4 linked regions of the Homo sapiens genome follow. The protein of the gene in region 4 interacts with the protein of the main gene of each other region in a biochemical or structural test. Each region holds a gene or a part of one and is shown on either strand. Other genes may lie near its edges. The genes, in order: RAPGEF3, RAPGEF5, RAPGEF6 and RAP2A.

The links.
Region 1: of the proteins of RAP2A (region 4) and RAPGEF3, one has a biochemical effect on the other in vitro, tested with the Homo sapiens proteins (one study listed by BioGRID).
Region 2: of the proteins of RAP2A (region 4) and RAPGEF5, one has a biochemical effect on the other in vitro, tested with the Homo sapiens proteins (one study listed by BioGRID).
Region 3: of the proteins of RAP2A (region 4) and RAPGEF6, one has a biochemical effect on the other in vitro, tested with the Homo sapiens proteins (one study listed by BioGRID).

The regions. Positions count from the first base shown.
Region 1 is NC_000012.12:47,748,864-47,755,887, reverse strand, and holds part of RAPGEF3 (rap guanine nucleotide exchange factor 3), read left to right. Parts: coding exon of another isoform or gene 1-39; exon of another isoform or gene 40-186; intron 187-1,860; exon of another isoform or gene 1,861-1,954; intron 1,955-3,918; coding exon 3,919-3,972; intron 3,973-4,058; coding exon 4,059-4,165; intron 4,166-4,367; coding exon 4,368-4,489; intron 4,490-4,626; coding exon of another isoform or gene 4,627-4,671; coding exon 4,672-4,840; intron 4,841-5,462; coding exon 5,463-5,547; intron 5,548-5,897; coding exon 5,898-5,958; intron 5,959-6,070; coding exon 6,071-6,147; intron 6,148-6,351; coding exon 6,352-6,498; intron 6,499-6,956; coding exon 6,957-7,024. Other genes in the region: SLC48A1 (heme transporter HRG1), read right to left, coding at 1-39. UniProt on the Homo sapiens protein: Guanine nucleotide exchange factor (GEF) for RAP1A and RAP2A small GTPases that is activated by binding cAMP.
Region 2 is NC_000007.14:22,305,131-22,312,154, forward strand, and holds part of RAPGEF5 (rap guanine nucleotide exchange factor 5), read right to left. Parts: intron 4,961-7,024; coding exon 4,839-4,960; intron 3,378-4,838; coding exon 3,209-3,377; intron 1-3,208. UniProt on the Homo sapiens protein: Guanine nucleotide exchange factor (GEF) for RAP1A, RAP2A and MRAS/M-Ras-GTP. Its association with MRAS inhibits Rap1 activation.
Region 3 is NC_000005.10:131,625,220-131,632,243, forward strand, and holds part of RAPGEF6 (rap guanine nucleotide exchange factor 6), read right to left. Parts: intron 1-7,024. UniProt on the Homo sapiens protein: Guanine nucleotide exchange factor (GEF) for Rap1A, Rap2A and M-Ras GTPases. Does not interact with cAMP.
Region 4 is NC_000013.11:97,429,307-97,437,188, reverse strand, and holds the start of RAP2A (ras-related protein Rap-2a), read right to left. Parts: upstream 3,021-7,882; 5' UTR 2,719-3,020; coding exon 2,405-2,718; intron 1-2,404. UniProt on the Homo sapiens protein: Small GTP-binding protein which cycles between a GDP-bound inactive and a GTP-bound active form. In its active form interacts with and regulates several effectors including MAP4K4, MINK1 and TNIK.

The sequences.
Region 1 (7,024 bases), on a different chromosome or scaffold from region 4:
GAAGGCTTCCGTGAGGGAATGAGTGCCAGCTGTGAGCATGCACGCCCATGGTGAAGGGGTGGAGCCCGAGTCCCAGGAAGACAGCACTGCCAGTTATTGAGGCCAGACCTCCCTCTTCGAAAGCCAAGGGGAAAACCCATCAACCTCCCAGAGAAGAAGTCTGAAGACAGCTCTTTCTGTTCCTACCTAGACCAGGACAAGAGAAAATGAAAGCGGGTTACAGTAGGAGGGCTTGCAGTTAGATACAGACTAAGATAAGACTTAACAGCTATTGCAAAAGTGACACTGGAATGGGATGGAAGAACATCTTTGGAAAATAAGAGGGGGAGGTGAGATCTTGTCTGATGTCCGGGGGCAGGGGCAAGATCAGAGTGACCTGTGGTGGGTTCTACTAGCTCAGGGAAGTCTGAGATGATTCTCTTTGTGTGACTGTTCTTGGGGAAGTGGCCCTGTTTTGTAACTCCGAGAACGCACTTTCATTCAACCTATCCAAATAATAGTAGTAGTTAATAGTTATACAGTACTTATGTGCCAGACATTATTGAAAGAGGTTTGCCTTTATCATATCAAATAATTCTCACAACAGCCCTGTGAGATAGGTACTAATGTCATCATCTCCATTTTATAGATGTGAAAACAAAGCCACAGAGAGGTTAAGTGACAGATTCAGAGTTACGCAGCTGCTAAGTGGCAAAGCTGGGCTTTGGTCCCAGGCAATCTGGCTGCAGAGTCCAAGCTCATAACCACATAACCACCATGCTGCACTTCTCTCTTGCTACGAACAGTAACACTGACACCTTAAGGCATCATCCCGGCCCCATGCACCCTTCCCCTGTCCCACCACAAGCAGCCCTAGCTTGACACCTTAGCTATGGCCCAAGGGAACTGGTCTGACAGGTCCCCAGGCTGTCTGGCTCTGTGCCTGTCTCTCCAGCCCAGCTCTGACATTCAGTGACAGGGAGTGAGGGTGGGGCAGGCCACAGTGCTGGTGCCAGGGGAGTTAGTGCCTCCTCTTCCGCCCTGAACCCTTTCTGTTCAGGAATGAGAGTGGGGAGTGGGTGAGGAGGACCTTCACCTTGACTCATATCAGCTGCTTCTTCCCAACTGAGAACCCTGAAACTGACATGACTAGCATTGTATTTTTTTGCACTGTGTCCTGGTAATAGGGCCCATCATGAAATAATAACATCTGATCAAGTCAACTAAACTTACTAAGTAGTTACTATGATCCAGGCACCATTCCAAGTACTTTATATTATTAACTTTTTGATCCTCATAACCCTTTGTGATAGGTACTATTCATATCATCAACCCCAGTTTACAGATGAGGAAACCGAAGCACTGCAAACTTCAGTAATCAGCACGAGCTCACACAACCAGATGGTAACGCAAAAGCTAGGATTTGAACCCAAGCATCTGGCTGCAGAGCCTACACACTTGACCACTGCCCTTGAATAGCAGCCCTCTCTCCGCCCCATCCTAGAAGGTTGGCAGGCACACAAACATCCTGGGGGCACAGAGAGGGTAGAATAACAAACCTGTCTATCTTTGTCTAACCCAGTGGTTTCCAAACTTACTTGCCCACAGAACTTGCCTGAAGGCAGAATACCTCTACTGTCTGTGCCTATAGCACAAAGCTGAGGAAACATGGGAATAGGCATAATGGAAGACGGTAGGGCATAATGCTAAGAGCATGGCCTTTGGAATCAGACATAGGTATGAATCCTGGTGCCCTTATTGACCAACAGTTAGGGCAGGTTATAGAACCTTGGAGCTTTCTTTTCTCTAGCTGTGAAATAGGAAACAAATACCTACCTCTGGGGTCAGCACCAGTAGCAGAGTTATTCAGTAGAATCTTACCTTTCTAAATAGTTGTGTGATCTCTCTGGGCTTTTGCTTTCCTTGTCAAAATGAGAGGGATTCCTTAAAGTCCCTTCCTCAGTGCTCATGGACTAGGGCCATTCTCTGACCTGCATCCTCATCCCCTGGGGGAGGACAGGAAATGACCAACCTGGCCACGTGACCCAGCACCACCCCTCCTAATGTGCCCTCTCCCAAGTCAGAATAATACCAGGAAGGGGGCTGGTGCTGGAGCCTGGGTTGTGGGCTCCAATGGGAGTTGGGGCAGGGACTGGGGCCACCTGGGCATTTTGATATGAACAACAAGTCATTAGCACTCAGGCACTGTTTGTTCCGACACAGGGGGCTGGCTGGGTAGCATTCCTGCCCTTCCTCCCTTCCCTGGCTCCTCCTCCTTCTCATTTCCTGTCGTTAAGTCTCCAGGGCTCTGTGTCTGGCACTGGGCTGGGCCCCATGACCCGGGCAGGGATACCCTTGGGACACCTAGTGACTTCCGCCCAGCCCTGGGCCAGGCGCCTGCACATGCCAGACCTCAGGCCTCTGCTTGGGCACGCAGTGCCAAGATGCCTGTGCCCAGGGCCCTGCCAGCACCAGGACTGGTTGTACTGCAACTCCCCAGCAGGTCCTTTTCAGGGACCTGAAGCCAGATGGGAAGCTAGGAGAGAGGTGGCTGGTGAGGGGAGAGGAAAGGGGCAGGTGGGGTGGGTGTAGGGAGACTGAGAATGGGAGCACTTCTGGGTGGGAACTTGAACTTCTCCACAGCTGTCTGGCTGTCCGAAGTATGCGCAACTGAGTTACACAAGGTACCTCACCTCCAGGCTTTTATTTCCTTGTAAGTGACAGAGGACAGACAATGCCTGCTCTGCCTATTTCACATCTGATCCTATTTTACATGAGATCCAATGAAATCAAGGGGGCGATTGTGCTTTGTAAACTGTAAAGTGCTTTGTAAACTGTAAAGTGAGCCCTTTGAGAGGGCTCGTAGATGGTAGAGCATCCTGTCCAGAGATGTCCACAAACCCCAGATTCTCAGGTGGTAGGAAGAGAAGGGTCGTGAGGGGCTTTCATGGCCATTATTCCAGGGCGTACAGGCCCGGGAGTTCCAAATGGCTTGTTACCAAGGGCAGGGAATCCTTACTAAGCAGTGTTTCCATGATAAAGTGCGTCTTCCTGAGCCAGTCCTGTGTGCCACCAAGGACTTATTCACTCTCGCAGGGCACAGGCTAGCAACATCTCAGAGAAGAAAGACGCTTTCCAGCAAGCAGCCCCACCCTAATGCCTCACAGATGAGTACTAGCTAACATGTGCATACAACTATATGCCAGGCAATGCTTTAAACATTCGATGTGTAGCAACTCATTTAATTCTCCCAAAACCTCATGAGTCGGTATTATTAGTGCTTTGTAGATTTTACAGTTCAGGAGACTCAGGTAGGGAGGGAGAGGTTAAATCATTTGTTTCAGGTCACATCTGCCATCAGTGGGGAAGCAGAGATTTTAATCCAGGAGCCTGGCTCCAGGGTTTGTGTTTTGACAACCAGGCTGATCCGAGGCCCAGAGATGGCAAGACACCTGCTCATGGGCCTGTGGAAGGACACAGAACCTGGCTGGGGATCAGGTCTGTGACCCCAGCCCAGGAGCGGATGTTCCCAGGCCTCCTGAGCTGCTCACATCCTGGCTCCCATCTCCCAGGTCTTCTTATCTCATGTCCTCATGCTCCTTCCAGCTCCCTCACTTCTTTCCCCCAACAGGGGCAGTTCACCTGGGGGCATGGGCACACCTGGGCCCTGAGTAAGCAGAATGGGTGTCTTAGGGCTCTCAACTGTAGGGAGGCAGTCCTTGAGTTGGGTTTGGTGATCAGGATGGCAGGGTGGGAAGAGGCGATGCCCGGGGCACAGGGTGCTGAGTGAATATTTGTTTATTTGCTGAAGGAGTGGCCACATGGATGCATTTGGGGTTGGGGCCTAGGCAAGAGTGGGAGTGATGGGGGAGGGGAGGTATCCAAGAGCTGGGCTTGAAGACCTCACACTGATGTGCACGCTTTCCCTGCTGCCCCCAGACACCACTCACCAACAGCGAGGAGTCCCTGGATTTCAGCGAGAGCCTGGAGCAGGTAGAAGCCTGGGCAGGGTGGAGCTGGGACAGGCAGCACCATGAGGGGTTCAGAGCCTGAACTGCTGTGCCCTTCCTCCCTCTAAGGCCTCCACAGAGCGGGTGCTCAGGGCTGGGAGGCAGCTGCATCGGCATCTGCTGGCCACCTGCCCAAACCTCATCCGAGACCGGAAGTACCACCTTAGGCTCTATCGGTGAGTGGAGGCCCTGCTGCCTCCTTGCCCAGCCTCACTGCTTTCTCTCCGTTCCACTTTATGTCAGGCACCTGGGCCTCACCCTGCTTCTAGCACAGGGACGAACCAGGCTTGGGCCTCAGAGGGTGCCTTTCTAATGCATAGTTCCTCCCTCTCCCTGCCACCCTCCTTCCACTGGCCTGTCCCCTTCTACCTTCCATAGGCAGTGCTGCTCTGGCCGGGAGCTGGTGGATGGGATCTTGGCCCTGGGACTTGGGGTCCATTCCCGGAGCCAAGTTGTGGGAATCTGCCAGGTGCTGCTGGATGAAGGTGCCCTCTGCCATGGTGAGCCCGAGCCCAGGGTGGGGTGCCCCGGGCTGGGCTGGGCAGTGAGGGGGACAGGACAGGGCAGTCCTGGGAAGCAGGCACTACTTGGGGAGTGCTGAGGGGTGGCATCGCAGTGGGGTTTCATACCCACATAGCCTCAATTTCCTCTCCTCCCCCACGCCTGGGCCTCTGCCCCCCAGTGAAACACGACTGGGCCTTCCAGGACCGAGATGCCCAATTCTACCGGTTCCCCGGGCCCGAGCCCGAGCCCGTGAGAACTCATGAGATGGAGGAGGAGTTGGCCGAAGCTGTGGCCCTGCTCTCCCAGCGGGGGCCTGACGCCCTGCTCACTGTGGCACTTCGAAAGCCGTGAGTCAGAATCCCTGCACCCCGTGACCCCAGGCCTCACACAGCACTCAGATTTCACGGTTTCTCAGATTGATCTCTGGGGGCATCCCTTACCTGTTGTGGAGGGAAGGGAACCTGGCTGGCCCAGAAGCCCCTGGCGCTGACTGCCACGGACTCACTGTGTGACCTGGATCCCTCCACACTCCCAAACCCCCCCAAGTCAGTTTCTTCCTCTGTAGATGAGGATGTTGGACCAGGGGGATCTCTGAGGACCCTTCCCACTCAGAGACACAGTTGTGGCTGAAAGCAAGTGGGTTTTGGAAACTGCAGTCCGGTGGGTCCAGGTTCAAATTCCAGCTGGACTGGCTACTGGCTGGGTGACCTTGAGCCTCCTCATGCTAGTTCCTGTTCTGTCAAGTGAGGATGATAGAACCACTCCTTAGGGTTGTTGTGAAACAATGCATGCAAAATGCTCATCACAAGCGCTGCCACATGTGCGCACTCAGTAAAGGTTAGCTGCTGCTGATAACTGTCACTGCTGAGGCACCGTCTGGCACAGGCATCGGCTGGGTGGGTGGAGTGGCTCCCTGCACCTGACGGGCCCACAGTTCACAGTGTGCTCCCATTCCTCCTGTCCCTGCAGCCCAGGTCAGCGCACGGATGAAGAGCTGGACCTCATCTTTGAGGAGCTGCTGCACATCAAGGCTGTGGCCCACCTCTCCAACTCGGTCAGTCCTGCCCCTCCCAGCCCTGCCCCGTACCAGGCATCTTCTCTTCCTGTGACTTCCCTGAAACTCCAACTGCTGGGCCAGAGGGCATTTCTCCACTTCCATCTATGGCTGGAAATTTTCAGTCTGATTTCTTGCCCCCGGCGCTGCCCTGTCTGAAAATCCTTCCGCCTCTCTCAGCCCATTTTCTCCACTTGCTTTGTCTCCTGCTGAATCCTGGGAACACCTGACCTGGCCACATCTTTGTCCCCCAGCACTTGTGTCTTTGGACCTAACCACACCCCTAGCAAAAGCCTGGCTGCTCTGCACATGAACTTGTCGCCACCGACTCTCCTATCTCCACCACACAGGTGAAGCGAGAATTAGCGGCTGTTCTGCTCTTTGAACCACACAGCAAGGCAGGGACCGTGTGTAAGTCCAGCAGGGCATAAGAAGCCAGGCACAGGGCCTGGACATGGGCAGAAGGATGTGTGAAGGAATGGTAGGTGCCAGGAGGGCCCGGTCTGAGGTATGCTTCTGTCAGTGTTCAGCCAGGGGGACAAGGGCACTTCGTGGTACATTATCTGGAAGGGATCTGTCAACGTGGTGACCCATGGCAAGGTGAGCCCTCCCTCCTCCCCACCCCAGTGCCCTGGGTCCTAACTGCTCCCTGGTCCATGTCCTCATGGGCAGTGCCTTTGTTGATCTACTGCTGCTGACCCCGTGTCTCCTGTGTGGGTTGTTCTCCTGCCGTGGGTCTGTCCTGGCAAGAGCTGGGGGCGGCAGGGGCGGCAGGGGCGGGCTGAGACTGAGGCCTGGCTGCAGGGGCTGGTGACCACCCTGCATGAGGGAGATGATTTTGGACAGCTGGCTCTGGTGAATGATGCACCCCGGGCAGCCACCATCATCCTGCGAGAAGACAACTGTCATTTCCTGCGTGTGGACAAGCAGGACTTCAACCGTATCATCAAGGTGCTGCTGCTGGGGTTGGGGAGGGCAGGGGCCATTCGTCCAGAGAAGTGATGTGGAGAGAGGAGTAGGGACCAGAGCAGAGGGCCTGTAAGAAGCAGGGCAGGTAAGAGATGCTGGGCTATGACAGCTGGCAGTGGGACCATAGCCCTGGGTGTGTGTGAGAAGGTGAAGCCCATAAGGCACAGAAGGAGTTCAGTGAGACCAGTGACTTCAGGCTCAGTGTGGGAGACCAGGGGAAGGATGGGCATGCAGGGGGCGGGGGACTAGGCTGTGGGGGAGGCAGGATGCATGGAAGGTAGGGAAGGCTGAGGAGGTGGAGCCAAAGTCGGAGGTGGGAGAAGGGCTGTGGGTCCCTGTGGGACCCTCATGGGGCTCAGGGGCTGGAATGAAGGAGGTAGATGAGAGGGTCTAAAGCTGGAACATCATGAGTTGAGCATGGGATGTGGCCTGTTCTCCAGGATGTGGAGGCAAAGACCATGCGGCTGGAAGAACATGGCAAAGTGGTGCTGGTGCTGGAGAGAGCCTC
Region 2 (7,024 bases), on a different chromosome or scaffold from region 4:
TTAATCCTTGTGTGACCTTGGACGGGTTACCCGATCTCTGTACCTAATTTCCCCTCTTATTTAATAGAGATAATAATAGTACCTGTCTTATAACATTCTTCTGAAAGTAAAATAATGAATATAAAGCATTCAGCACAGTGCCTGACCTAAAATTCATTCTCCACAATCAACCTTTCTATTAGCACAGTCTCATCAATATTCTGAAGCTTATTCTCCTAAAAACAGTCCATATTAACTATTCAGTATTGTCATTTAACAGGAGATTTTATTTATTTTTTCTCTTTTTTTATCTTTCTGGGTACAGAGTAGGTATATATATTTACGGGGTACATGAGATGTTTCGATACAGGCATGCAGTGTGAAATAAGCACATCATAGAGAATGGGGTACCTATCCTCTCAAGCATTTATCCTTTGAGTTACAAAAAATCCAATTGCACTCTTTAAGCTATTTTAAAATGCACAATTAGGTTATTATTGGTATAGTTACCCTGTTGTGCTATCAAAGAGTGGGCCTTATTCATTCTTTCTAACGTTTTTTTGGTACCCATTAACCATCCACACCTCCCCACTAGTCCCCAATTACCCTTCCTAGCCTCTGGTAACCATCCTTCTACTGTGTTCATGAGTTCAGTTGCTTTCATTTTTAGACCCCACAGATAAGAACATGCAATGTTTGTCTTTCTGTGCCTGGCGTATGTCATTCAACATAATGCCCTCCAGTTCCATCCATGTTGTTGCAAATGACTATCTCTCATTCTTTTTTATGGCTGAATAGTATTCCATTGTGTATATGTACCACGTTTTCTTTATCCATTCATCTGTTGATAGACACAGAGGTTGCTTCCAAATCTCAGCTGTTGTGGACAGTGATGCAAAAAACATAGGAAAGCAGGTATCCTTTTGATATATAATCTTTCTTTTGTGTATACACTCAGCAGTGGGATTACTGGATACTATGGTTGCTCAATTTTTACTTTTTTGAGAAACTTCAAACTGTTCTCCATAATGGTTGTACTAATTTACATTCCCACCAACAGTGTACAAGGGTTCCCTTTTCTCTGCATCCTCCTCAGCATTTGTAATTGCTGTCTTTTGAACATAAGCCATTGTCTTTTGAATATAAGCCATTTTAACTGGGGTGAAATGATATCTCACTGTAGTTTTGATTTGCATTTCTCTGATGATCAGTGGTGCTGAACACCTTTTCATAAACCTGTTTGTCATTTGTATGTCTTTTTTTGAGAAACTGTCTATTCAGATCTTTTGCCCATTTTTAAATTGAATCATTAGATTTTTTCCTATAGAGTTGAGTTCCTTATATATTCTGGTTATTAATCCCTTGCCAGATGGGTAGCTTACAAATATTTTCTCCCATTCTGTGGGTTGTCTCTTCAATTTGTTCATTGTATCCTTGCTGTGCAGGAAGATCTTCAACTTAATGTGATCCCATTTGTCCATTTTTGCATTAGTTGCCTGTGCTTGTGGAGTATTGCTCAAGAAATTTTTACCCAGATCAATTTCCTGAAAATTTTCCCCAATCTTGTAGTTTCATAGTTTGAGCTCTAAAAGTCTTTAAATCATTTTGATTAGATTTTTTATATGGTGAGAGATAGGGGTCTAGTTTCATTCTTCTGCATGTGGATAGCCAGTTCTCCCAGCACCATTTATTAAAGAGACTGTGTCTTCCTCAGTGCATGTCTTGGCACCTTGTTGAAAACGAGTTCACTGTAGGTGTGTGGGTTTGTTTCTGGGTTCTCCATTCTGTTCCATTGGTCTATGTGTCTGTTTTCATGCAATTACCATGCTGTTTGGGTTACTATAGCTCTGTAGCATAATTTGAAGTCAGGTAATGTGATTCCTCCAGTTTTGCTGTTTTTGCTTAGGGTAGCCTTGGCTATTCCGGATCTTTTGTGGTTTCATATAAATTTTAGGATTGTTTTTTCTATTTCTGGGAAGAATGTCATTGGTATTTTGGTTGGGATTGCATTGAATCTGTAGATTGCTTTGGGTAATATGGATATTTTAACAACATTGATTATTCTAATCCATGAACATGAAATATTTTTTCCATTTGTGGTGTCCTCTTGGATTTCTTTCATCAGTGTTTACAGTTTTCATTACAGAGATCTTTCACTTCTCTGGTTAGTTCCTAGGTATTTAATTTTATTTGTGTCTATTGTACACGCTGGTGTAAATGGTGGAGGTGAGGTGGTATCAGTGATTCAGTACTGTTTTTTCTATTTCTTCAGTGCTCCTTTCAGCAATATGGAACTATAACCGGGTATTATGAGTGCTCACCTGATTTTTGGTTCTTATGAAGGTCTTTTTTTCTGTGTAGATAGTTGTTAAATTAGGGTCACTGCCTGGGAGACAATTGGTGGAGACTTCAATTCCCTAATCTTGCTCCACCTCCTTCTCAACAGTCAACTGTCATTTTTTTAACTAATAAGAGTTACCCTTGTTATGGTTATACAGGTATTTCTCTCTGAACCTACTTTCTTATCTATGACATAAAGACCATACTGCTTGCCCCCGCTAATATCATAGAAGTGAAAGAGTCAACAATATGGGAAAGCATTCTGGACACTGAAGTGTTCTGCATATGTAACAGTTTTTAACTGAAATTTTAATCCATAACTCATAATTCTAAAATAAGCTATCACCATGGATAAACAAAGTCATGTCAGAATCACCACATCATGACTCAAGTCCTGTTCCCAAGCCTTCCCTAATTAATTTTAATTCATTTTAATCATATAGTGATTCAGTATCTTCATGTGATGATTCACGTGTTTTAATTTGCCAAATGTTGCTTCTAGACTATTTTCAGAAACATTCTGTTGAGCTCTTAGGAAAGTCACGATTTGGATAGCGAATAGGATGGGAGTTACTATTTTATTCCAACTTAAGCCCAATCATATGTTTTTTCTTAATTTAGATCATCTACTCCTATAACAATGATAATTTAGAAACCACATGGTACAGATGGTTAGGCATAGGCTTCTGGGATTTAAATACCAGTTATTTATTAGCTGGATTTAATTTTCTGCAATTTATTTTATCTTTCTAAATGTGCATCTGAAAAATGGGGATAGTAACTCCCTCTTAAGTGAGACAGTGATCTTAAAGAGCAGAATATAGTCCCTAGACATGGTAAATGTTGTCTAAGTGTAAGAATACAATGGCACAAGAGAGCATCTACTTACAGTTCACAGATGCCACCTCTGGCAGGAATGAGAGGCACAAGTTGCAGTAAAAGCTTGACACCATTTTGCCATTCTTCTTCTCTTTCAAATTCACAGTACAAGTAGCTACATTCATCAGAGGAAAACTGGTAGAAAACATAAGTATCTTGAAAGTATAGATGCTGGTCCACTGTTTGAAACAAAAAATATATAGATCAATTTTTTAAAAGATATTACTCAGAGAGTAATAACTCAAATGATAAATTGAAAGCCCTAATAATTGGGAGCAATCAGGGTTAAGACTATAATTATACATTCTAAGCTCATTCATGTTTATAATCCCATTGAATTGGAAAGGACTTACTGACTAGTCTATTTTTACTACTAGAAGCTCTGGCCAGCATATTCACATGTATTCATATTTTTTCTGCTTCAGAGACAGGTGCAGATAAAATCAATAACAATTCAAAGAGGATGGGGAGAAATCTTTTTTAGTGACCCAAAGCAAATTAGTATATTTAATTAATTTAGTAATACAGAAATACAACATAATGGCAAGTTTTAGATCAATGATTCTCAACTTAGGGTGACTGTGCCTCCCCCAGGGGACATTTGGTGACGTCTAGACATTTTTGGTTGTTACATTTTGGGGGCAGAGCGCTACTAGTATTGGAGGGTAGAAAAAAGGGATGCTGTTAAAAAAAACCCTACAATGTACGGGACAGCCCGTCACAACAAAGAACTATCTAACCCAAATGTCAATACTACCAAGGTGGGGAAACCCTGTTTTAAAGGAATCAAGAGCTAGAGATTTTTCCAAAAGGTATTAGTACAAAATGTTTTGCTAACCAAAAGCCTGAAACTATCAAGTATCCTAATAATACCTCCATTCTTCAAAGGTAGTTAACTAATTTTATAAATAAGAGTATTCGGTGCTAGGTACTATTGACTATCTAAGAAGATTACACCCACGTCCATATCTGTACCATTCTTTCACAACAGGACCAGGGGTATGCCCTTGATATTTATTACCTATAGGAAAAAAGTGCTTTTCAGTGACCAACTAGCAGCTGAGAGACTGGGCTAAATAAATAATCCAGATTGCTCGGTTTCTAATCCTTCAGTTCTCTGGGCTCAACTAAGAAAAGAGATATCCATCACCTATTTTAGTTGCCAGTTAACATCTACTTTCTGTTCAGTCTAAACAGCTAATTTTCATAGGTCATATATCAAAGTGTTCATGATTACTTAGTCAATTAAAATGGCATAACATCCCACTCATAAAATCAGTTTCTGATGATTATCCTAACTACAAGATAAATCACACACTTAGAGCAACTAAAGATGTCACTGATTTTGAAAAAAGTTTGTAAGCAGCATATTGAGTTCAGAAGAAAGGAAGTAGAGGAAGGACTCCTACAGGTAATATTAGTCTATGAATCAGCAAGTATCTAATAATTTTTGCAAGAATTGTAAGAGAAATAAGTGAATCAAAAGATGACCTGTCACTTAGAAAATAAGAGAGAATACAAATATTTATCTTCAAAAATAATTTCCATCCAGACTGTAACATCCTCTAGAAAATCAAGTGTATTTTCATCTGATAGCTTAATAAAATAATGATGCTGTGCCTTCAAGACATAATACTAACCTGATAACATAATTCCCATGTCCAGTAGGAGTTGCCAGACTCCTATGGCCATAGATCTGCACTGGACGAAAGGACAGTGTTCTAGAAGCCAGTCTACCAGCTCTGACCCAACGCAGCTCCTCCTGAACAAAAGCAAAGCCATTCACAGTAAGATATTGCTGACATCCGTTTGCCAAAAAAACAAAAATGATATATAATACCTTTCCTTTCATGTGCTTGCTTTTTTTAGACAAGCAACCCAAGAATAAATGGCATATACCTCTTATTCATCTTTCAGATTAAAGCTCAAATATCACTTCCTTAGGGAAACAAGAGTCAAATTGTCTTCTACTTTTTCATCAAATCACCTAAAATTTAGTAAGTATATATCTTTACAAAGGAACAATATCTGCTTATCCCACTAGAGAATAATTTTCAGGAGAGCAGGAACTTTATATAACTCACTATTAATTCCCAACAATTAGAACAGTCCACAATACACAGTAAGTTGTCAAAATATATTTGTTTGAAAAACGAAGGAATAAATTTAGCAGCCTTTTATATAGAGATAATGCTTTTACCTTGGTAAGCTACATACCTCAAGTTGGTGGTGATAAACTTTGGTTCAATTATTTATAGATTTTTATCTAGTCCTTTTGAGAACAAAATAATTCCAAGATTAGACAAAATTGGGACCACAGTCAGTTGTATAGAGTTTGTTTGCTATTCTTCAAACAAAGATTGAACCCTAAAATTTACTCCAAGAACAATAAATTTGATTGTTAATCTTTTTAATATAATCATTGTAACTATTTAAGCAGCCCAGGTCACATAACCATAAACCCAGATGTGTTGGATTCCACTAACCACGCATGAAAAATTATTTTTGTAATCTGTCTTAAAACACACAACTATATTCAAAAAAATGTCATAACCTGGTTATTACAGGCGGTATCATCATGCCTACTTTTCAGATACATATGAGCCTCAGGGGGAAAACAAAAAGAAAAACTTCTGAAGTGTTTTGTCATTTGCAGAAATTTCATCAAATTTCACTCTCCCTTATGAGAAAAGATCATGAAAAAAAATTTTTTTTGAGACAGGGTCATACTCTATCACCCAGGGTGGAGTGCTGTGGTGCAATCTCGGCTTACTGCGACCTCTGCCTCCTAGACTTGAGAGATCCTCCCACCTAAGCCTCCTGAGTAGCTAGGAGTACAGGTGCTCACCACTGGCTAATTTTTGTTTTTTGTAGAGACTGAGTTTTGCCATGTTGCCCAGACTGGTCTCAAACTCCTGAGCTCAAGTGATCCTGCCTCAGCTGCCCAAACTGCGGAGATTACAGGTATGAGCCAAGCACCTGGCCAAAATGTTTTTTTAAAATAATGTATCATATAATGACTATCTTTATATGCAGTACTGAAGGACCAAGAGATGCCGACATTTATTTGTATTTCTAAAGTAGAAAAATATTGCCTATTTTGCTGTCTCTTGTGATTGGCATAGTTACAAATACCCTAGAATCACACCATAACCAACAATATGAACTGCCATGGATGCTACATTTTCTGGGGTGAAGAAAAATAAAGTAGTAAACTTTTCTGCTGAGATATTTGATCAAACATCCCAGCTTTTCATCAAAAGCTAGAATATATTTGGTAAAGTGTCACTATTTGACAGATACTCTAAGGCAATTAAGCCAATTCTAGACATGTTCAGTTGCAGGTTAGCATAAGACAGCATAAAGATTAACAGTCAAATATATGGATTTCTTTTTTTAGAGAAAATGAGAAAACAGATGGCAATAAAACAGGCAATTAGACCAAACAGTCAAGACTTAACTTCTAATTCTATAGGATATCTTTCATGTTAAAGGTTCAAAGTGTTAATTAACTAATTAATTCCTCAACACCTCTGCCAATTAGTCAGCATCTCAGGGCTTTGAAAGCACTTTTATCTCATGGATTAAATACTGTACCATCTTAATTCATATTCTCAAAACAATGCAGGTCCTCAGTCTGCTCTGAGTGTCTGACATCACCTGGACTATGAAAGAACACAATAAAGCATTTACTAAACAAACTAAACTGTCAAACTGCAAAGGTAGCTAGATGGATACAGCTGCTTGTTTGTTCACAGGTGATATGGAAGAAGCTTCTTAGAACAAGGCTTCTCAAAACTCTGCTTAGGAGTCACCTGGGTGATCT
Region 3 (7,024 bases), on a different chromosome or scaffold from region 4:
CCACTGCACTCCAGCCTGGGAGACAAGAGAGAAACTCCGTCTCAAAAAACAAACAAACAAACAAAACAAATTAATCATCTGCCAATGTATATTTAGGGCATATGGACTTTATGTTTTATAGTTCATTTCAAAGTTTTTCAAAAAAGTCTGGGGGAGGAGGAGAAATTATCTTTCCAACCAGTGACCAGGTTGGGCCAATTCTACCTCCTTAATACCTCACTATCCCACTTAACTGCTGCCACCACTGGGTCCAGGACCTTATCTCACACCTGAACTACTGTATTTGTTTCTAACAACAAAACATACTTCTTGGTGGCTGGGCACGGTGGCTCACACCTGTAATCCCAGCATTTTGGGAGGCCGAGGTGGGTGGATCACGAGGTCGGGAGATCGAGACCATCCTGGCTAACATGGTGAAACCCCGTCTCTACTAAAAATACAAAAAAATTAGCCAGGCATGGTGGCGAGCGGCAGTAGTCCCAGCTACTCGGGAGGCTGAGACAAGAGAATTGTGTGAACCCGGGAGGTGGAGCTTGCAGTCAGCCGAGATAGCGCCACTGCGCTCCAGCCTGGGTGACAGAGACTCCGTCTCAAAAAAAAAAAAAAAACCATACTTCTTGGTTTCCATATTATCTTAGTATAATCACTAGTAGTCTTACCTTTCACATGGAAAATATCCCAGTTTGGATAAAATACATGTCCAGTCTACCTGTATACCTATAAGCCTCCCTGTCTCTAGTCTGCTCCTCCCCACTCAATTACATCTCCAAAATGCTCACATAGTAGTCTTTATAAAACTGATCTTATTTCCAGGCTTTAAACCCTGCAACGGTTCTTTCTCCTTTATTTATAAGATGGAGTCCAAATTTCTGAAATTATCCAAACCCTGCTAGTACGTCCAGCTTCATCATTAAACATCTCACATCATGTACCATCATCCCCAAACATCCTAGACATTAGCCCCAGTGTTCTGCAACCTTTTTTTCATTTTCATCCCCTCCCAAAGAACCTTTCAGACAATTTTTCGTAAGCACTGCCCCATCTCTAATTAAATACTAAAGAATAAGACACTGTCAGTTTAGGGCTGAGTTTTAGAGGGCCACAAACCATACCAATAGCTGTGATTTTTTTTCCCACTCCCATAAAAGGCAATTTTTGCATCTTTGGGAGCGATATCACTTCCAACGGGAATGCCTGCTCTAGACTTACAGATTGGCTTCTTATTCTACAAGTATACATGGCTTGCCATCATCAGTACTTTTGCTCCTGCCTCTCTGCTTGGAATGACCTCTCTTGATCATCCAGAAATCAATTCATGACATTTAACACTGGGAATTCAATGCTCCCCCATGAAGCTTGTTCCCTTCCCCATCTTGCAATCCCAAAGCCCTACTCATACCTTTGTCACTAATAACTAAAACATTTATTACATTTATGTTTTCTTATGTCTCCCAAGTCATTGATGAATAGGGACCATGTCTAACTCCTCTCTACAACCTTGGTTTTTAATATATCAGATATATTATTTCTTAAATGAATGTACAAATTAATGTTATCATCTGGGTGAGGTAACCATATCTCAGTTTAAGCGGGACAGTCCCTCTTTAACCTGTTACTCTGAAATAAATATTAACAGCTTCTCTTTTAATTCACAAAAATGATTTGAACAACATATTGTTAATCTATACCTAGGAAATATAGGAAATAAAATTCTGAGCAAGAGTAGAACATAATCAGATCTGAGAGGAAGATCACTCTAGCAGCAAGACTCAATGACTCAAGCAATAATTTGGGGGTAGAAACAATAAAACAGACTGAATTAGAGTAGTAAAACTTGTAAGAAAAGGGCAAATAAAAAGATTCAGGGGACAAAGTTTAGTGGCAAGTTGCATCTATGAGGAATGAAGAGAAATAATACAAATTCCTAGAGACAGCAACTCGGCCAGCTGCCAACAGATTATGAAGGAAGAGGAATAATGATGGCTCAATTTAGGACAAGTGGTTGAAGAACCTGGAGGACAAGATGGTTGATATATGAAGCTGAAGCACATAAAATTTAGGGGATAAGTTGGAAAACATAATCCTAGGAGGCATTAGCCTATAACAACTAACTGAAACCAAGCTGCTGAGTAAGACTGTCCAAGAAACAAAAAGTTAGCAGTTCCAATGAATACGAAGTGCTACCTTTTTAACATATGATGACTTTACAAAATGTATTTCCAAATTTTGGCTTGTAAAATATTTATTCATCATTTAATATGTGCAAATCATGGCATTAAGCACTGAGAGGGAAATAAACATTAAGGGAAATATAAGGAGTTCATTCTGAAGTAAAAAAAGGAACGTTATAAAGAATGGTATTAAATGTGGATTGAGCTGAGAAACAGCCAAGTTCAAGGTCTAATTATGACTGTGGCTTCTTTAAGGAATTCTGGCATAATGACGCAAAGAAGTACAGGCATACTCTGTTTTATTGTGCTTGGCTGGTATTGTGGGGTTGTTTTCTTTTTTTTTAAATACAAATTGAAGGTTCATGACAACCCTGCATCAAGCAAGTCCAACAGCACCATTTTTTTCAACAGCACATGCTCACTTCATGTCTCCGTGTCACATTTTGGTAATTCTCACAACATTTCAAACTTTTTCATTATATTTGCTATGGTGGCCTGTGATCAGCAATCTTTCATGTTACTACTGTAATTGTTTTGGGGCACCACAAACTGTGCCCATGTAAGATGGCAAACGTAACTGATGTATGTGTTCCAACTGTTCCACTGGCTGTTCCACCTTCTCTATCTCCCTCTCTTGGGGCCTCCCTATTCCCTGAGACATAACAATACGGAAATTAGGCCAATTAATAACCCTACAATGGCCCCTAAGTGTTCAAGTGAAAAGAGTCACCTATCTCTCACTTTAAATCAAAAGCTAGAAATGATTAAACTTAGGAAGGCTAACAACGGCCCAAAGCCAGGCCTCTTGCACCACACAGTTAGCCATGTTGTGAATGCAAAGAAAAGGCACATGGAGAAAATTAAAAGTGCTACTTTAGTGAACAAAAAAATGATTTAAAAAAAAAAAGTGAAAAAGTCTTATTGCTGATATGGAGAAAGTTTGAGTGGTCTAGATAAACCATCAAACCAGCCACAACAGTCCCTTAAGCCAAAACCTAATCCACAGCAAGGCCCTAACTTTTCAATTCTAAAAAGGTTGAGAGATGAGATGGCTGCAGAAGAAAAGTTTGAAGCTGGTGGAAGTTGGTTCATGAAGTTTACGAAAAAAAGCCACCTCCACTAACATAAAAAGTAAGTTATCCTGAAGATCTAGCTAAGATAATTAATGAAGGTGGCTACACTAAAAATCAGATTTTTAATGTAGACAAAACAGCCTTATATCAGAAGAAGATGCCACCTAAGACTTCCATAACTAGAGAGGAGAAATCAATGCCTGGCTTCAAAGCTTCAAAGGACAGGCTGACTCCTGTTAGAGGATAATGCAGCTGGTGACTTTAAGTTGAAGCCAATGATCATTTACCATTCTGAAAACCCTAAGGCCCTTAAGAATTATGTTAAATCTATTCTGCCTGTGCTCAGTAAATAAACAACAAAGCCTAAATGACAGCACGTTTGTTTACAGTATGGGTTAATGAATATTTTAAGTCCACTGATGAGACCCACTGCTCAGAAAAAAAGATTCATTTCAAAATACTACTACTCACTGACAATGCATCTTGTCACTCAAGAGCTCAGATGGAGGTACACAAGGAGATTAGTGATTTTTTTCAGGCCTGCTAATACAACATCCATTCTGTGGCCCATGGATCAAGGAAAAGTTTCAACCTTCAAGTCTTGTTATTTAAGAAACACATTTCATAAAGCTACAGCTGACATAGACAGTGATTCCCTAACAGATCTGTGAAAAGAAAATTGAAAACTGTCTTGAAATGATTCATCATTCCAGATGCCATTAAAACCATCTGTGGGCCAGGCATGGTGACTCACGCCTGTAATCCCAACACTTTGGGAGGCTGAGGTGGGAGGATCACTTGAGCCTAGGAGTTCAAGACCAGTCCAGGCAATGTATTGAGACTATCACTTAAAAGAAAAAAAAAATTGTGAAGCATGGGAGGAGGTCAAAATATCAACACTAACAGGAGTTTGAAAGAGGTTGAATCCAACCTTTATGAATGACTTTGAAGGGTACAACACTTCAGTGAAGGAAGCAACTGCATGTGTGGTAGAAATAGCAAGAGAACTAGAATTAGAAATAGAGCCTGGGCTGGCTCCCAGCACTTTGGGAGGCTAAGGTGGGAGGATTGCTTGGGCCCAGGAGTTCAAGATCAACCTGGGCAACATAGCAAGGCCTCGTCTCTACAAAAAAAAAAAAAAAATCAGCCACGCATGATGGCATGCACCTGTAGTACCAGCTACTCAGGAGGCTGAGGTGGGGTCACTTGAGCCTGGGAAGTAGAGGCTGCAGTGGGCTGTGATTACGCCACTGCACTCCAACCTGGGCAACAGAATGAGATCTTGTCTCAAAGAAAAAGAAAAAAAAAAAAAAGGAAAGAAAAAAAAAAGAAATGAAGATGGAGCCTGAAGGTGTGACTAAATTGCTGCAATCTCATGATAAAACTTGAGTAGATGAGAAGCTGCCTCTTATGCATTAGTAAAAAAAGTGGTTTCTTGAGACAACCTGCTCCTGGTGAAGATGATGTACATATTGTTCAAATGACAACAAAGAATTTAGAATACCACATAAGCTTAAGCTTAGTTGATAAAGCAGCAGCAGAATTTGGGAGGACTGACACCAATTTTGAAAGAAGTTACTGTAGGTAAAATGCTATCAAACAGCATCACATGCTAAAGAGAAATCTTTCATGAAAGAAAGTCAATTGATGTGGCAAACTTCATTGTCTTATTTTAAGAAACTGTCACAGCCACCCCAATCTTCGGCAACTACCACCCTGATTGGTCAGCAGCAGCTATCAACACTAAGGCAAGACCCTCCACCAGCTAAAAGATGACAACTAGCTGAAGGCTCAGATGACTGGTTAGTATTTTTTAGCAATAAAGTATTTTTAAATTAAGGCATATATCTTTTTTTAGACATAAGGCTATCACACACAATAAACTACTATATGTGTAAACAACTTTTATGTGCACTAGGAAATAAAATTCACGTGACTCACTTTATTGGGATATTGGCTTTACTGCAGTAGTCTGGAACCAAACCTGCAGTATCTGGGAGGTATGTCTGTACCTTAACAGTTTTTGTTGTTTTAGTGCACTTAATTGTCCATGGAGTATTTAAGTCTGAAATTTTCCATAAGAATATCTTTGCAAATTGAGAAAGAACTAGCTCAGGAAAGACAATGTTCTGTGGAAGCTGAATCTATAAGTAGGAGAAATCTCTCACACACACACTGTGTTAGAAAGATATCTAAATGGCACACTTTACAACATGTGTCTGTACTTGATGTCTGGCTCACTAGGATTATGCCTGAGTTGATAGTTTCACCTAAGGACGACAGATGGTTCAAAATAAAGGAACCATTCATTTTGTCCCAGAAACACAAGGAGTTCTTTACTCATTATTTACTCATCAATTACACGATGCAAACAAATGATTTCAACATACTAATTCTCATCCCTTTGTATATTTTTCACAACGCTTTGCACCCAGTAGGTATTCAAGGAAAAATAAGCCAAACAAATAATTTTATCCCCTTCTATTTTACAGCTTATTAATTTGGCTTCTAGGGCACCACCACTCTCTCGGTTTTTCTCCTACTGCACTGTTTGCTTCCACTCATTCTCCTTTGCTGATTTCTACTCTTCTCCCCGACCTTATACTGATCTCATGTCCCATGGTACTCACTGTCCTTGGTCCTCTTCTATTCTCTACGTACACTCACTACTTGGTAATTTTACCCAGTCTCATGACTTTCAATATCTATAAACTGATGACTATAAAATTGTTATCTCCAGCTCAGGCTTCTTAGTAATACAAATTTGTATATGCAACCTCTTACTCATTTCTAACAGACATTTCAAACTTGACATGTTCAAAACTGAATTTCTGATCTTGCCCCTAAAACCTACTCCTCCTGCAGCTTTTCCCATCTCGCTGATGGCAGCTCAAACCTCTCTGACAATAACTCCAACACTCCAGTTATTTAGGCCAAAAACCTTGAAGTCATGCTTGATTCTTCTCTTTTCCTCAAGGTCCACATCTGATCTATTAGCAAATCCTGTTGGCTAACCCTACAAAATATTTCTAAAACTTAACCACTTCTCACCACTTCCATTACTATCACTATCACTTTAGTCAGAGTGACCATCATCTCTAACCTGATTTTATGCAATAACAGCCGTTAACCTCCTGCTTTTGCCCTTAAACACCTACAGTCTATTCTCAACACAGCAGCCAGGAGACTACCCAGTAAGGTAGTCAGGTGTAGTGGCACATGCCTGTAGTTCCAGCTACTTGGGAGGTTGAAGCAGGAGAATCTGTTGAGCCCAGAAATTAGTGACCAGACTGGGCAATATAGTGAGACCCTCTTTAAAAACAAAAAGGTAGGCCAGGCGTGGTGGCTCACGCCTGTAATCCCAGCACTTTGGGAGGCCAAGGCGGGCAGATCACGAGGACAAGAGATTGAGGCCATCCTGGCTAACACGGTGAAACCCCATCTCTACTAAAAACACAAAAAATTAGCCGGGCGTGTTGGCACACACCTGTAGTCCCAGCTACTCAGGAGGCTGAGGCAGGAGAATCGCTTGATCTCAGGTGGCAGAGATTGCAGTGAGCCCAGACTGCACCACTGCACTCCAGCCTGGGTGACAGAGCAAGACTCTGTCTCAAAAAAAAAAAAAAAAAAAAAGGTTAAGTAGGTCAATATCACTCCTCTGCTTCAAAATCTTTCAGTGCTCCCCCTCACTGAAAAGTCAAATAGGATGTGCCCTATGCTATGCATCATTATCTCCACTCCTCCTTCATCTCTTACTACTCTCACACCTGTTCACCCTTC
Region 4 (7,882 bases):
TGATTCTATTTTAAATATGGTGGGTTAAATAAAATACATTAAAATTAATTCCATATATTTATGTTATTTTTAAAAAATCAGCTACTAGGAATGTTAAAATTACATATGTGGCTCACGTTATATCTCTATTGAAAAGTGCTGACCTAGACCTAAAGCTGAATACTGAATTTGACAGTAGATATCAAATACTGAAAGACTGGTAAAGAAGAGGCCACCTGCATTCACATGTCCTCTCCATCAATGATGGGAAGCCAGACGCTGGGGTTAGGATGAGGTGTAAAATACCTTACTACTACCATATTACAAAGACACACAAGTGAGGGTCCAAGAGGTTCTTATGTATACAACGGTTGAATTCTGGTGAAGAGAATTTATGAACTCTACTTCAGCTGATCAATGATCTTTTTATATCAAGAACTGAGACTAGTGAGTAAAATGATACTGGGCATGCAGAATTTTACTCTATGTTTTTCCTCTGGGTCATAGTGAAAATAAACAAATTGCTCCAATATGCTGAGTTTAGACTAACCTATTATTATAACTGAGAAAAGTAATCTGCACTAAATTACAAGAAACTACAAAATTATGTGGACCATATTATCCAATAATATTTTGCCATATTTGTTCCCTAGGCTTGTGTCAAGAAGTTAGCCATGGGTATGTGGCTTTATCAGTGTATATGTGCATCTTCATATCTTTAAGCATATATATCTAAATGTGAAGGGTGAGGCTGTTGGGGCATTTACTTAGATTATTTTTTGATGTATGCATTTGGCCTAACATTGACATGTGGCAATGTATCAGACTACCCTGCAGTTGGTTTGGTTTGTTTCTTTTTAATTGAGTGGTTGGGGGAGGGGGTAATAAGAATTTAAGTAACTTAAATGTAGCCCCTTAAATGCCATCCTCATACTAAGTTTAACACCAGAATTGTTCATCTCTTAACTATAAACATTTAACTTTAGGAAAATGATACTGGAGAAGTACAAAGCTATCAAATTTACAAATCTTAGCAGCAGAGACCACGAAAATATCTGCTTTATTCTAGTTTGGAATTTAACACAAGGATGAATAACATGCACGATTTTAGTTCAGCGATTAAAGTGCATACTCAGTTAAGGGGGGGTGGAGCAATAGAGAGAGAGCCTTCTCTTTGATCTCATAGGTTGCATTAAAAACTCACTACTCGTAATGAATTTTTGATCATCCCCTGGGTACACATAACTTGGTCCTTGCTCTTTCAAAATGAGTGGACTCAAACTGACTTACAATGTGACTGTGTCTACGGTGCACTTACAACCATCTTTCAGTAAAGGTCTTCAGATTTAGGCTCTAGGTAGAATAAGGCAGGAAAAAAAGGACACCAAAATTATCAGCAGGCATTAACTAACAAGAACTAGATGAAACAGTAATGTGTAATTAAATGATAATTAGAAAAATTTGCCAAAACTTTGAACTAAGATATTATCACATTTCTAATGCTTAAAATTACACGGAAAAATATATTCAGTGAATTTAAGAGAAAACAAACATTTTAAATCATTTATCAGCCATATTTCCAAAATGTATACTTTAGAAAAGAATTTATATATATATATAAAGGCTTATTAACATTAACTTTAAATTAGCTAATACTTGTGTCACACTTTTGAAGAAGCTTCTGTTTTGTTTCCAGGAACTGGTGGTGGTGGTGTGGTGGTGTTTTTTTTTTTTTTTTTTTTTTGGAAGGGGTTAAGGCGGCTATATTAAAAACAAAAAAACAAAAACAAACAGTTAAGCTGCATTCTTTTCCTGTGAATGGCTTATTTGTACTCCTCTGTTAATATTCTCGAAACCCCATTTAGCTTATGATGTCTTCAAATAATTTAATAATCTGTCTTTAAAGTTTTGCACTAAATTAGAGACTTAATTTTTGTAAAACGCCTTGGAACCATAAACCTTTAACGAGATGAGAAAGGTCTCCTTCCTCTGGACTTGACTTTACTGTATAGGTGTGTGAGCGATTTTTACTGTCAAACATTGCCAAGGCAGATTGTTGTTGTTCAGTCTGCAAATGTCTCGACTATACCTGCACAGTTCCTCTCTTCCCAAGACAAATCTATCCACCCCTTTCCCCCCTGCAAGTTTTAAACTTTGTTTCCTTGGGGGCTCTGTAACAAGCAATGCTAACAACGTCCAAGAGACAAAGAGCTGTTCTGTGGGCTAACACGATGCCAAATTTTAGTTGTGAAACAAAGCACTCAAATTTGAGATTGAGGAGGAGGAGCAGAATGACAATAGTAAAGCCTCCAGCTTGGAGCCACCCCCCAGAAAGCCCCTTCCCCGGAGCCCCGCGCGGGGAGTTCCAGCCCCGGGACGGTGACTCCGGGGTGCAGCCGCCAAGCCCCCGTGTGCCCTCGCTCACCGCTTCACGCGGATGATCTGGTCCCGCATGGGCTTGATGTCCTGGAAGCTCTGCTGGTTGACGAGGCTGTAGACGAGGATGAAGCCCTGGCCGTTCTTGATGTACAGGTCCCGCATGGACGCGAACTGCTCGGTGCCCGCCGTGTCCAGGATCTCCAGCACCGACGGCGACGAATCCACCTCGATCTCCTTGCGGTAGAAGTCCTCGATGGTGGGGTCGTATTTCTCGATGAAGGTGCCGGTCACGAACTGCACGGTCAGGGCGGATTTGCCTACCCCGCCCGAGCCCAGCACCACCACTTTGTACTCGCGCATCGTCCCTCCGCGGCCGCCGCCGCCGCCGCCGCCCGCGACATAGACCTACGCCGGCCGCGCTGCGCCCCCAGCCCCGGCCCCGGCGGCCCGCCCCGCCGCCTCCCGCTGCCGCCCCCACCTCACAGCCGCGGCGGCCCCCTGGGCGCCGGCGGCGGCGGCGGCAACTGAGGGAGCAGCGGCCCTGGGCATGGGCCGGGCCGAGCCGGGCGGCGATGCGGCCCCGTAGGCACCGGGTGGGACTGAGGGCGAGCAGAGAGAGAGACCGGGAGCCGCTGGTGCCGCCCGAGCCGCGGGCCCGCAGTGCCGCCCGCCCCGCCCCTCGCGCCTCCACGCCCAGATCCCCGCCCGCCGCCGCCGCCGCCGCCGCCGCTACCCCCAGCGCTCGAGCGCGCGCCCGAGCCCCAGCCGCAGCGCGGCCAGGGGCGGGGTCCGGCGGCCGGGGCGGAGCCCGCGGCGCAGCCCCGCCCCCGCCCCCTAGGCGACGGGCCGCGAGCGCTCCCGAGAGGCTTTGCGGGGCTCGGAAGCTTCTGCCCGCGCGGAGATAAACAAGCACCGCGACCGCCGAGCAGCGCCGAACCCAGCGCGCCCAGTCAGACCCCAGGGCCTGTGTACCGAGCATGCGCAGTTCCCGCCCAAGCCAGGAGCAGCGTCAACCTGAGACTCCCGAGACATTAAGAATTCGGAAGGGATGAGATGGTAGAGGGGCTAGAGCTACCTCCAAGCTTTATCCTGAGGCGGGGAGTGAAGGAGAGATGCCCAAGGCCCAAGAGGGGCCGCGAGGGCCTTTGTCCGATGCCACCCAGTCTGTCAGCACTCCTAGAGCTTTGGTTTTATCTTGTATTAGCATGTGAAGCTTTAAGGGGGGGGCACCTACAGGCTTCTGACTGAAGTTGTGTAAACGCAACAAAATGAAGCTTTGGAGCGTTAGGACATTGATGGGAGGGTGACGCCCCCCTCTAGCAGCGCGCCAGAGGGGCGAGTCAGAGGCGGCCACACACCACGGAAGTCGGGTCCAAGCCCGCTGACGTCGCCGGGGTCCCGCCCACCAACCCTCTGGACCCGCCCACATTTCTTCTAGACCCGCCCCTTTCGGTGCCGAACTGAAGTCGAGCTCTTCCCACGCCCTGTCAGCCACGGGTGAGTTGAAAACCTGGAGAGCGGAATCCCGAACGGCAGCCGGAAGGCCCTGGACTCCTCATAGCAACAGCCAGCTAGGGGCATCTAGTGGGAAGCTGGGATTCATTCTAGCCAACCACATCACGTCTCTGTACCACAAGGTACCATTCACGACCAATAAGAGAGCGCCCCCATACCACGTGCCTTTACTCCTTCAACCAATCGAGAAAAACGCTAGTCGTAGGATCCGCAAGCCCACCTCCCAGTGCCTTGCCAGGCGGGGCTCTTCGCGCACGCTCTGCCAACCAATCGTAGGTGAGCTGGCGAGTGACGGAAGCTTCGGCCAAGCCAACCAGAGCTCGCGAGCCCCTTGCCACCGAGGCCGGCGGGATGGAGACAGGGACCGGCTGCTGGGGTTTGGGAGGGGCAGAGATTGAGGAGCCAGTTGCTGTGCCCTGTTCTGGCAAAAGAACAAGATGCGTTGCAAGCCAGAATGATGAATTCCACTTTTCACGTCGCCTCCGTGGCATTCTGCCTAAATGATGGGCATGGAAATGGTGCTGAGGGATGTGGGCTGAATCGAGAACACAGGGACTTTTGTCTTCAGGGTGAGAAATGTTCCGGTCCTTAAGGAAACATCGTGCAGCAGTTGCATGGGTCTTCCAGGCGTTCCTCCCAAAACATTATTTTTTTTCTTTCACTATTGAGTTTTAAAACTTAGCGTTCTGTCGCTAGCATTGCATCTTAGTTACACATCCTCTCCCACCCATAACGTCAAATTTAGGAGACGATACATCCCCAAGCTTTCCTGCATTATTTTTTGCAGTAACTGGTTATTCAGTTTACTTTCTTTAAACTATGTCCTTCTCAAACTAGTCTCACCTGTTCGTTACTGTCGCACATTTCCTGCGAATAACACGTTTCTGTAGTTCTGTTGTTAGAGCCTGGCATACCTCTCCCCGTTCCTCTTTCCCACAAGGTCATCATGCAGAGGGGATTTTGGTCTGAGTTAAAAGCCAGGTATTCTTTCACCATCTTTTCTGTCGATAGTCAAACTACTACAAAGACTACTCAAATTTAGTAGTTTCTTATTTCCCTATAGCTTCGTTATATTAGAATGGATAACTTATATTTGCATTACCTTGCTGTAATGAACACACACCAAGTTTTCATTTAAAATTATCAAGGACAAATGTCCTCTGAATTTAAAAATGTGTATGTAGTAAAATATAACTCAGCATTTCTTGATTACATATCATTAAAATATGAATGGTACTATCTGAGCCACCAGAATCAGCAGTGAAGGTATTATATTAATAAAAAGGACTAAGAATCAGGACTGTTTTAAGGGAACTGGAACCGAAGAGGATCTACTATTTCATCCTAGGCTAGTTAACATGAAATAGTGAATTAAAATTGAAAGAGCTTACATGGATGCTTCATATCTGAGCTACTTTGGCAGGGATGTTTCAAGAGGATGTAGGTAAGTATGGTGTTCACCTAGCTTTCCAGAAGTCTCATATTTTGTGTAAAATTGGTATGCTTATTCATGGTTACTTTGGGTTAGTAGAAGCTATACTTCTTTTCCAAGGAAAGACAGACTGTCTTAAGATTCTAACTGTGCATCTTGGTGATAAGAAGTTCTTAGGGTTGTTAAATAGAGCCAGGAAGCGTGAAGCTTTCTCTCTAGATCATGACAACTCATCTAGTACCTTGCATTACAAAGGAGCTCTAAGTCCATTTACTTTGCAAGGAATGAAGTTCCAGTGATTAATGTTTTTGAGAAATTTGTATTGGGATTGTGGGGTCCAGAAGGTTGCCTTAAGTAACTGTTTTCATGACTCCTAGGTCCCTAGATGTTGAGAAGCTCTGGATTGAAGCTGTCACAAAAATAGTGAGTGGGCTCCGTAGTCACTCCATTTAGCATAATACAGAGTAGGACAGCTTTGTGACATTTCTCAGGCTATTTCCCCTGACCTCTCATCAATGCTGACGTTTTTGATAAGAAGGGGTATAGAGACTGCAGCCCTTGGGGTGGTTACAGTTCATTTATTTACAGGCCTTATATTGACAGGCCTCAGATTTCATGCTCAGTACCATAAAGGTTGATTTTTAACCACCAAGAGGCAAAAGAAACATGACAGGTCGGAGCATATTTTCTCACCTATTCTGGCTTAAATGATGGTACTTACCTGATTTGTGGTTGTAGGTGAAATGTTGGGTGAAAGATTAGCTGCTATAAAAAGGATGTCAGGACGTGTAGAGAATTTAGAGGACTTGGGTGGGAGATGGATGTCTATTTTCTAACCCCTTAGTCATGTTCATTCCGATGCCAGCATAAACTCTATTTTGAGATGATTATAGAAATAACTTATATCTTCATTTGTTTGTGGGAAATAAAAAATAAAAATGATATAAAAGAAATTTGAATTATTCCCAAGAGCTGTAAATCTGTAAGATAGTGAAAACTTAACGCAGTAACTGACACTGCAGGATCCCTTTAGTTTCCAAAGTGCATTGCCAGGAGAATAAAAAGAAAGAAAATCTTCATTTCTCCTCTCTCCACTAAATCTGAAAGGGAGTTATCTCACCTATAGCCAGATACCTTCAATTATCGCACTTGTGTTACCGTGGAAACCCAAGTCCATCCTTTCTTTCTGTAAAAGGTGTTGGAAAAGGTGGTATGAAGTGGGAAAGGTACTGTATTCTGGGACTTCCTGACACCAGCAAGAAGCAAATATGCAGATAATTTAATAGAAACAAATTAGTAGAGGATGTTTGTAATGCGAGGGGTACTTTTCGACTGTAAAACCCTGATTCCTAATGCTTCTTATTAAAGCCTGCATGCCTCTGATTAAACATAAAGGGGAAGGGCATGTCAAGTACATTTAGCACCTGTGAAACGCTGCTGGCAAGTATAAGGAGAGCAGACGATGGTTTCTTGACCTGTGAGGCTCCTAATACAGTTGAGAATCTGCAGTATATATGTGGAGTGGAAAGGAAGGGGCAAAATAAACTTTGTTCTTCCTTTAAAAAATGTGATATGTCTCAGTGCTTTTGAAAAGAAAAGGAATTAGAATGCAGAAATTAAGAGTATGGAAACAACTCAATAAAAGAAACGTATGGGTGGAGAGAGTAGATGTTTCAAAAGGCCATTTTAATCAGAAAAAAAATCTGAAAGAAAAGACGTAATGATTAAAATGTAGGCAGAAAAAAGAAAAAGCCTGAAGAATCTTAAGAGCTAGAGGATTCTGCGGAAAACAGAGCTTCAGTGTGGTTCATTTAACAAAGCAGAAGAGCAGGCACAGTGTTGCTTGCGTACCCAGCAGTTTCCCTTTATTTTTGCCAAAGAAGCTGGGATGAATCAGGATTGGACTTTAATAGCATTGCTTTCCCTCTGCCCACGGTTAGTCCAAAAGTAGGCACGTGACTCAGTTCTTGTCATTGGAATGGGGAGAAGGCTGCTAGGGCTGGAGGGATTTCTAGGATATTGACAAGAGTGAGGAAATATCCCCGTTTTCTGATGTCGCTCTCTTTGCTTCCTGCTTTACACATTGAAATATGAGAATGTGGCCTCCATTTGGGGGCTATGATGCATTATGACATTATGGTGCAATACTGTAGAAAGCCAGCAACTTCGGATGGCCAGGGAGGAGGATGGGAAGAACCTAGGTCCTGCATGACAACATTGGACAGTCAAACCAACATTAGAACTGCCCACATTTGGACTTATGGCTAAGTAAACAGCTGGTGTCTTTCAATTTAAGTGTGTGTTGGTAAGGTTTTCTGCATCTTACAGCAAAATACATCCCACCTGTTAACAAAAAGTATGAGGGATTCCAGCCAAAATCGGGCTTTAAAAAATCAGCAAGCATTTGTGAGCACTTTCATTTCACTAATATCTGAACGATAGTTCAAAGATACTATAATATTAATTGAGTAATTACTGTGTATATTTTTTAGGCTCTGGGGATAAAACAATAAGCAATTAGCCAAAAGAGCTTGTATTCTAGCAGGAGAGACAGATATTAAGCAACCAATTACATGT